Regions from separate parts of the Homo sapiens genome. Here region 1 is linked to region 2. The links come from fine-mapping of genetic effects on gene expression. A gene starts in region 2. The other region holds a variant in brackets. All regions are shown on one strand. Distances are between the middles of the regions.

Region 1 (4,397 bases), 51 kb after region 2:
TTTGATAGATTTGATGATAATGACACCACTCACAAACAAATTTGGTTATTTCTGTGGCATGTAACACTATGACTGACAAAATATTAGATTTCTAGAAATCTCATATAATTTTTGAAACATTCACATCAATAACATACCCGCAAATATAACTTAGAGAAGGTTTGGCATCACTTGTCATTTGACAGTGTTTTCCATATAATTTAACATATCAATTAAGGTGAATTTCCATCTCGCTTCTGTTTCTCAACTGGATTACTGAGTTCAGGGCATAGTACATTAACAAATATGGCCAACAATGTATAAGCTTATGTATGTTGAAAAAGTTCCCCAGGTAATTTTGATACATACCCCTAGCTACAAACCATTGATTTAAGCCCAAGTCCTGCTTATCAGAGCAGGGGTTCTGCATCCTGCTTGCACATTAGTAGCATGTGGGAAGGCTTAAATAATAACGCCTTGGTCCCACTCTAGACCATTAAATCAAAATGTATGAGCAGAGCCTGGAAATCAGTTGTTCTTTTAAAAATTTTCCAGTGATTCCAGTGTGTAGCCATATTTCCCATTAGATTTCTCTTTCTTCTTGTGGAATTTATCTTTTTCTATTTTGGTATTACAATTATTTTTCATGTCTTATTTTTTGGAGACAGGGTCTTGCTCTGTGGCCCAAGTTGGAGTGCAGAGGCACAATCATAGCTCACTCCAACCTTGAACTCTTGGGCTCAGAGGATCCTCCCACCTCAGCTTCCCAAAGCACTGGGATGACAGTTGTGAGCCAATGCACCTGGCCCTTTGTCTTATCGTCTGTCTTAGGCTTTATGTTCCCTGGAGTAGGGACCTTGCCTTCTTCATTTCTGTATCTTTCATGAACACATGAATTGGTTATCAGGAAAAGATTCTCAGCCACGTTTAGGTTGTGTCCTGAGTCTCAGGTTCACATACTAATGCTACCGTCTTTGTCCTCCACAAGGACAGAGGTTGCTTGTGATGAAGGGTGTGGGTAACTCCACAATGCAGGTGGTGGAGGAAGGTTACCTTGTTTTTAGATATAACATTGGAACTAAGAATTCTATGTGTACATGGGGTGGAAGGGCAGGATGTATAGGAAGACAGATCTAATTAGGATGGAGAAATTATACTCAGGAGTAGTGGTAAAGGAAGTAAAAAGGATTCATGAAGAGAAGAAATGTGAACTTATCTAATGGGCTAGAGTAGGCCGCTGCAGGTTCTTCAGTAGGTGATTTTAGGAAGGTAATGAAGTAGTCATATGCTAGGAAGCATTCAGACTAGAGAAAAGAAGTCAAGCAGGACTTCAAGCAGTTGTTGAGGTTTATGGGAATGGAGAGAACAGCACAAGTGAAAGATGTTTTAAAAAGGACCAAGAAGCTTTCACAATGTATTGAATTGGGGAAACAAATGAGCAGAGGCTGGGAGTAGTCATGTCTAAGAGACAGTGGAGTACAGGAAGCATGAAGACCAGGGAAGAAGAGACCTGCAGGAATTAGTGCTTAGAAGCAGGAGTTTAGTGGGAGGAGGAGGAGATCTAGTCCCAGATACAGGTGAAGAAGTCCTTTCCCTCTCCCAAGCATGGCAGTCAGCCCTGCAGGAAATAGGATAAGAGGAAAGGTCATAATACCTACCACTCTTCCCGAAATGCAGAAACTACACCAAGGCTGCTATATCAGAGCCATCCCAGCCAGTACTCCAATCATGATGCTGACAGCGGTCCCAGCTGAGAGGTCAGGTGAACTTGCTTGTACTGACTCATCTGCCATGGAAAGAAAAGAGAAGGAATGAAGTTGATCTTATTTTACAGGGAAGTCCCCCAGGAACCAACTCTCAGCATGAAGTCGTTTCTATTTGTTCCTTCAAGGAATACATTATTTTTGTGGGAAGGTTGCTGGGAGATGATTATCCAACTAAATTCTTGCAGGTTTTTTATCTCACCAGGTTTCCAGGTTGATGGTCAGTCTTCTGTCAATTCCATCCTGACCTTTTTACACTCAGATATTTTTGAAGGCTTTGAAATTTGAGAAAGACTGATTGCTAATCTTGTATGTCATTAAAACTTCCCACTTTTTCATGGTTGCATTTTTTTTCTTAGTGTCTCAGTTGTGGCAGTTAGTGCATTTTGAATTCACCACCTCCTTTGCACAGAGACCTCACTTCCCATGGGCTCCCAGCAGGTGTGTGAAAGCAAGTCAAGTTCTGCAAGACTATTTTGCTCTGAAAGGTGATGGGCTTGAGGAATTCCCAACAGTCTTGCAGAAACTCTCTTCGAACTGCACTGCAATCTAAAACTTTCTTTTTTTTCTCTTTCTCCTCCACAGGCATCACATCTGCATCATGATCTGAGGGCTCTCCCAGGCTCCTCCCCCTCCCAGCCCACTTTCCCTCACAGGTGTTTTTCCCTCAAAATTATATTGCATGTCTAATCCCATCTTG[A/G]CTGCATCTCTCTGAATGAAAACTAACATACTAGGCTTGAGACTTCATATTTAACTCTGTTCTTTTCCCTCTCCCATATTAATCAGTAACCATGTCCCAGTGGACTTTTTGTGTAATGCCTGTTTCTCCCATGTATATGTATATGTATATGTATATGTATATGTATATGTATATGTATATGTATATGTGTGTATATATGTGAATATATATATGCACATGTATATATAATACCTTCTGCATCTGTTTCTTCTTTATTTCTGTTGCAATAATTTGGGCTTAATTTCTCATCAGTCATCAGTCAACTCAGACTGATGATTAATAATCACTAATATTAGCTACTGTTGAGGGGTGCTTCCTATGTGTCAGGCCCTGTGTTAAATTATTTACATGTATCTCATTTGAGCTGTAAAATAATACTGTCAGGTAGAAAATAGAGGTGGCTTAGAGTGGTGAAAAAACTTACCCAATGTCATACAGCTAGTGACAGGCGGATCTAGGATTTGCCTCTAAGACTACCTGACTTCAAGGCTAATAATAATGGTAGCTTTAACAGCAGCTAACATTTATGAAACAGTTCCTCTGCATGTGGCATTTTGCTGAATGTTTCATTGATTATTACATTAAATCTTCAAAACAATACTGTGAAACAGGCACTCTTATTGCAATTTTCAGTTGTGGAAACTAAGGCTCAGAGAAGTTAAGAATCTTGTGCAAGAAATGTATAACTATAAATACATACATTTAAAAAGAAGAAAGATCTGAAATCAACAACCTGGCTTTACAACTTAAGGATATAGGAGAAAAACAAATGAAACCCAAAGTTAGCCAATGAAGGAAATAATAAAGATTAGAGTGGACTAGAAAAACAATAGAGAAAAGCAATGAAACCAAAAGGTGGTTCTTCAAAAAAGTTCAACAAAATTCAAAACCTTTAATTAGATCGACTAAGAAAAAAAATGAGAAGATAGAAATTACTCAAATCAGAAATGAAAGTGATTACTACCAATTTTACAGAAATAGTAAGTGTTATGAGTATTATGAATAATTATATGCCAACAAGTTAGAGAACCTGGATGAAATAAATTCCCAGAAACATAAAACCTTCCAAATGGAACCATGAAGAAACAGAAAATCTGAATAGACTAATAACTACTAGGGAGACTGAACCAATAAAACATTTGTCAAAATTCAACATTCTATCATAGTAAACACACTCAGATTATAAATAGAAGGAAACTACCTCAAATATAATAAAGGCATTATCTGAAAAGCCCAACGCTAACATCATACTCCAGGGAGAAAGACTGAAAGCTTTCCCTCTAAGATAAAAACAAGACAAGAATGCCTAGTTTTACCACTTCTATTCTATGTAGTATTGAAAGTTCTAGTAAGAGAAAGTAGGCAAGAAGAAAGAAAATAACATCCAAATCAGAAAGAAGTAAAATTAACTTTGCAGATGACAGGAACTTACATGTAGAAAACCCTAGAGATTAAAACAAAATTTTAGAACTAATAAACAGATTCAGTATAACTGCAAGATACTAAATCAACATGCAAAAATCAGTTGAAATCAGCTGTATTTCTTTTTTCTTTTTTCTCTGTCTCTTTCTCTCTCTCTCTCTTTTTTTTTTTTTTTTTTGAGACAGAGTCTCATTTTATTGCCCAAGCTGAAGTGCAGTAGCATGATCTCGGCTCACTGCAACCTCTGCCTCCCCAGTTCAAATGATTCTCCTGCCTCAGCCTCCCAAGTAGTTGAAATTACAGGCGTGTGCCACCACACCTGGCTAATTTTTTTTTTTTTTTTTTTTTTTTTTTTTTTAGTAGAGACAGGGTTTCACCATATTGGTCAGGCTGGTCTCGAACTTGTGACCCCAAATGATCTGACCACCTCAGCCTCCCAAAGTGCTGGGATTACATGTGTAAGCCGTTGCATCCAGCCAAAAAACAGTTGTATT
Region 2 (4,397 bases):
ACTCATAACTCTCCAGACCAGAATCTCCCCCTCCGAGCTGTAGACACCTAAGAAGAAAACATCCGAACCAGTGGCTGTTCTGAGGTCCACAGACACCTAGTAAGGCACCAGGGATGAAGGAGAGGACGTGGCAGCAGCTGCAGACAGCCCTCATGTGACTCTGCCAGCTGCGATCTGCCCACCGTGGCCGGTGTCTGTATCTCTCTGTGCCTCAGTTTCCCCTCCATACAATATGTAAATGGAAAATGGTCTGAGGCTTGCCACTTTGTCTGTGAATGAACTTTAAATTATTCACAGGATCTGACATGAAGCTTGGCACAGAGGAGGTGTTCACATCAACAGCATCTGTTATTTGCCTCCATGGGAGAGCACCCCTGGGCATGATCCCCGGTGGACAAGAAGCTGCCAGGAACATTTTCTCCCCTCTGTTCCTACCCCTGGGCCACTGACTGCCCAAGGGCATCTCTTAAGCTCCTCATTCAGGGGGCCAATGCCCTAGTAATCCTGTCCCCCTGCCCTCTCCAGGCTGAGTCCCAGGGAAAGTGGTAGGCTCTGTCCTTGTCTAGATGAGACTCTGGGAGCTGAGCCCTCACTGATGAGAAGCTTCAGGAACCACAGCCCGCAGACATCTGGTAAATCCTTGCTCCCAGTAAGCCCTGCCCAGGAGACCACACCCCAGCCCTGACACAGGCTTCCCGGGGTCACACGGAGTCAGGAGTCCTGAGGCTGGGCTTTTGTGAGGTTCCCAGGACGCCCTCAGGCCAGGCCCTGACCCAGTTCTCCAGGGTCTTTCTCAGGGTCAGGTTCATGGGGAGGGCATGGGGTGCTTGGCTGAGACTGACCTCCCCCTGCTGAGGCCCCCCCGCCCCCGCCATCAGTGTCTGCAGGGCCTGGATGCAGGAAAGGAATTCTGATCTGTTGAAGTTTACCTACCATGTGTGTGTCCTGCACTAAATGCCCAAATCTCAACACGGGACAAAATGCAGAGGGGGATGCAGGCACAGCCCAGGCCTGACAATCTCATGTGTGTGAAGCAGAACTGACCGCCAGCACCCAGAGGTATGGGGGAATCACTCACGGTGTACGTGGAGCTGGCCAGTTGCTTGGTCAGAGTCGTAACTGGCATTTATGGTTCGTAGGGTGTAGGATCCTGCGTCCTCCAGGGTGATGTTTTGGAACAGCAGGGATCCATTGGGGTATACTGTCTCTCGACCACTGTATGCGGCCCCTGGGATATTTGCTTGAATGTCTGTTATATAACCAGCAATGAGAGGGCTCCCTTCTGCCGTTTTCCCCTTGTGCCAATAATAGGCTTGAATAGTTTCTGAAATATTGCAGGCCAGTAGAAGAACATCCTTTCCCTCTGCAGCACTGGACGGCAGGGCTTCAATAGTGAACTGGACAGTGGTGGGCGGGTGCCAGAAGGTTAAAAGTGAGGCTAGGAGGTGAAGACAGCATCAGTCAATACTGGGACCTATGGAGTGGGATGGAAAGATAAGGCCCTGGGTCCTCAGCAGGTCTCCTCATCCCTCAGCCTTGGAGTGTGTGTGTGTGTGTGTGTGTGTGTGTGTGTGTGTGTGTGTGTGTGTGTGTGTGTGTGTGTCCCTGGGTCAGCAGCATGACCCCCATTCCTTCAACAGCTTGGACCTTGGCATTTCCCTGGTGGAATCTTCTTCCCCAGGGGTCTGCACGGCTCCCTCCCCACTGCCCTCAGATCCTGCTCACATCAGGGTGTTTTTGGGAGACCCCTCCCCTGACACCTCCTCTAGAGACCCTGGGTCTTCCCTTTCTGACCTTTCCCAGCTCTGTTCCCTCCAGGGCTCTTGTCAGCACCTGACCTCACATTCTAGATCTCTTTAGGTGTTTGTCTTCCTCCCCATGAGAGCGTGAGCTCTGTGAGGGCGGGGACTTGTGTGATCTTGGTTGCACCCCAGTGCCTGGCACAGGCTGCAGACTCCTGTAGATGAGTTCATGAGCATTCTCAGGGCCTCCAAGTCCTGAGGTTTATTTCCCAGTGTCTGAGGTTGTTGGCTAAGAGCAGTGTTTTATGCCCTGGTTATGTTTTTATTTGAAGTGTCATCTGGTATAGTTATTATCATTTTTCAAAATGTAGTGGCCAGTGATGATTAACCAGGACGAGAGAACACTTGAGATTTTCCTGCCTTTTACCAATTCCAGTTCACTGAGATTTTCCTGTTGTGACCCCTGCCCCTCTCTGATGTTCTCTCCCTTATCCAGCCTCCAACAGAGGCCCTCAGTCCCCTCTCAGAGCCCCAGGAGACCCCAGCCAGAAGCCCTCTATCCCCTCCTACCCAAGAGACCCCAGTCAGTCTCTGTGCTCCCTCTTCCCACCACTCCCAGAGAGTCCTCCCCTCACCTGTGATCAGGAGCCCCTGCCAGGGCCTGTGCCCTCCACGGGGAGCGGCTGAGGGGGGGCCCATGGTCTCTGCTGCCTGCTTGTCCTCTGTGGAGAGGAGCTGGGCTCCAGGAACGCTCTTGTCAGAGCTGCTGTGACTGTCGGCTGTCGGGGCTGCTGACCTTCCTCCTTCTGTGCTGAGCCTCCTCCCGGGCAGAAGCACTTCCCAGGGCCAGGGGCAGAGGCGGGGCTCTTCCCAGGTCACCCCTCTGCCCCTCCCCTCTCATTTCTGCCTTTTTTGTCCCTCCTTCCCCTTTCTCTTCTGTGTACATTACAGTTTCCTAACCACACTTTGAGAAGCAGGGTTGGTGGAGTCCCCTGTCCCCAGAGAGGGTGACTTGTCACCCCTGCACTGACCCTTTGGGAATGTCACCACAAACAGAGGTACTCTGGGGTCTCCCAAACTTGGGGAACTGTTTCCTTTTGTGACACAGAGACCCAGCTGGGCCCCCAGGTCTCCTCATGCTCCCCAATACTCAGGGAGTGTGAGATGATACCCAGCAGGAAGGTGACAGAGGTGGCTCTGTGGGATAGAAAATGGGGGGCGACTACGGGGGGGACCAGTCCTCTCTCTCCAGTGTCACCAGCCTTGCCTCTGACCCAGGGACAGAGATCCAGGCCTGGGGGTCTCAGGAGGATCCCCAGCTCCTGGATGTGGAGGGAGGTGTCCTGCATGTCCTGGGAAGAGAGGACTGTGGTGGAGGGAGGTGGGTGGCTCTGGGTTCTGCTGTCCTTGAGGAGGGATTCAGGGAGATCCTCCCTCTCCGTTTCTGTTGGCTGAGCTGTGGCTTAGGGCCTGTGCATGTTCTCCCTTACCATCCCGGGTGGCCTCTGTCCTCTGTGAAGGTGATTGTCCTGTTGTCACTGTACCTTCCCCATGCATGATACCAGGAGAAAGTGGAGAACTGAGCAGAGAATCCTGGCAGAGCAGGATCCTCAGAGGCTCCAGGAAGGATCAGGAGAGACAGAGCAGGCACATGGGAGGGACTGGAAGGGCCTGCTGGAGCAAAGTATGGAAACCAGGCTTCACCTCCACCTCCTTAGCAAAGCCAGATTCCTGTCCAGGGGAATCCATTTCCTGTGTTGTCTGCGTGCAATGTTGCCCCTGGAGAGCAAGAGGAACCCTGTGGTAAAAGTCAGGGGCTTCCCCAGGGATGCTGACCAGGGTCCACGTGGTATGAGTTGGCCCTGGCCCCTGGGCAGAGGTGGGCTCTGACCTCCAGACTGCAGGGTCAGGTCATCCTTGGTCCTGTTCACTGTGGGTCCCCAGGATGTCCAACTCCATGCAGTGCAGGATGAGCTCAGGGAGAGGACGAGAGTTGTCCAGAGCACTCCTGGTCCTGATTTGGGAGAACTGTCCTGCAGGCGGATGGGCTGCCTCAGAAAGAGCCATCCGTCCCCAAGGTTTCAAAAGAAGGGCCCAGGGAGGTGTCTCTGGGGGTTTAGAGAGAGGGCACTGGCCTGGGAGGTGGTCCTCGGTGTGTTCTGTGTTCCTCCATCACAACACTGGGAGTTCCGCCTCCAGGTCATCTGTGTCCCTGTCTGTCACCTGCCCCAGGCCTCTCCACAGGGCCCAGGAGCTGGGGCAGCTCCTACCTGCAGGCTGCAAGGGATACCTGGTTCCTGTATTAGAGCAGGGGAGGCCCCGTGACCCTCAGTCCCTCTGAGATGGAAACAAAGGCAGATCCTGGGTTATCCTGTCCCCTCCTGCAGGAGAAGTTCCCCTGGATCCCCTGGTGAAATGTCTGCAGGGACCATAGGCAGATGTCCCAAATACTGGGGATCTCGAGGCTGGGGAATCACTCCCTGACTTTCTTGTGGTCATTCTGCCCTGGTGGAAGATCCACCTGGGATCGAATATCCGGAGTTTGTGTCAGTTTTGGTGTGTTTGTGAGAAAGACATATGTTAGAGCCTGGAGGGAATGTCAGTGAATGATGTCAGGGAATGAATTGGGTTTGCCCCTCACTGTTAGAAAGACCC

The links. PIP is the estimated chance that this variant, and not a neighbour inherited with it, causes the effect. A credible set is the group of variants that fine-mapping cannot tell apart.
Region 1: its variant is the best candidate, but not a certain one, in a credible set for the expression of CEACAM4 in lung (TOPMed, PIP 0.52).

What each region holds. Positions count from the first base shown.
Region 1 is chr19:41,675,739-41,680,135 of GRCh38, forward strand. It overlaps CEACAM7 (CEA cell adhesion molecule 7), which reads right to left. Exons shown (of 5, transcript NM_001291485.2): 4 at 1,638-1,765. The coding sequence ends at 1,674. Among named protein-coding and RNA genes, the nearest start is that of CEACAM7, 10 kb to the right of the region's middle. The variant A/G (reference allele first, on the strand shown) is at 2,443.
Region 2 is chr19:41,624,523-41,628,919 of GRCh38, forward strand. CEACAM4 (CEA cell adhesion molecule 4) reads right to left here and starts at 2,552. Exons shown (of 7, transcript NM_001817.4): 1 at 2,378-2,552; 2 at 1,079-1,438. The coding sequence starts at 2,441.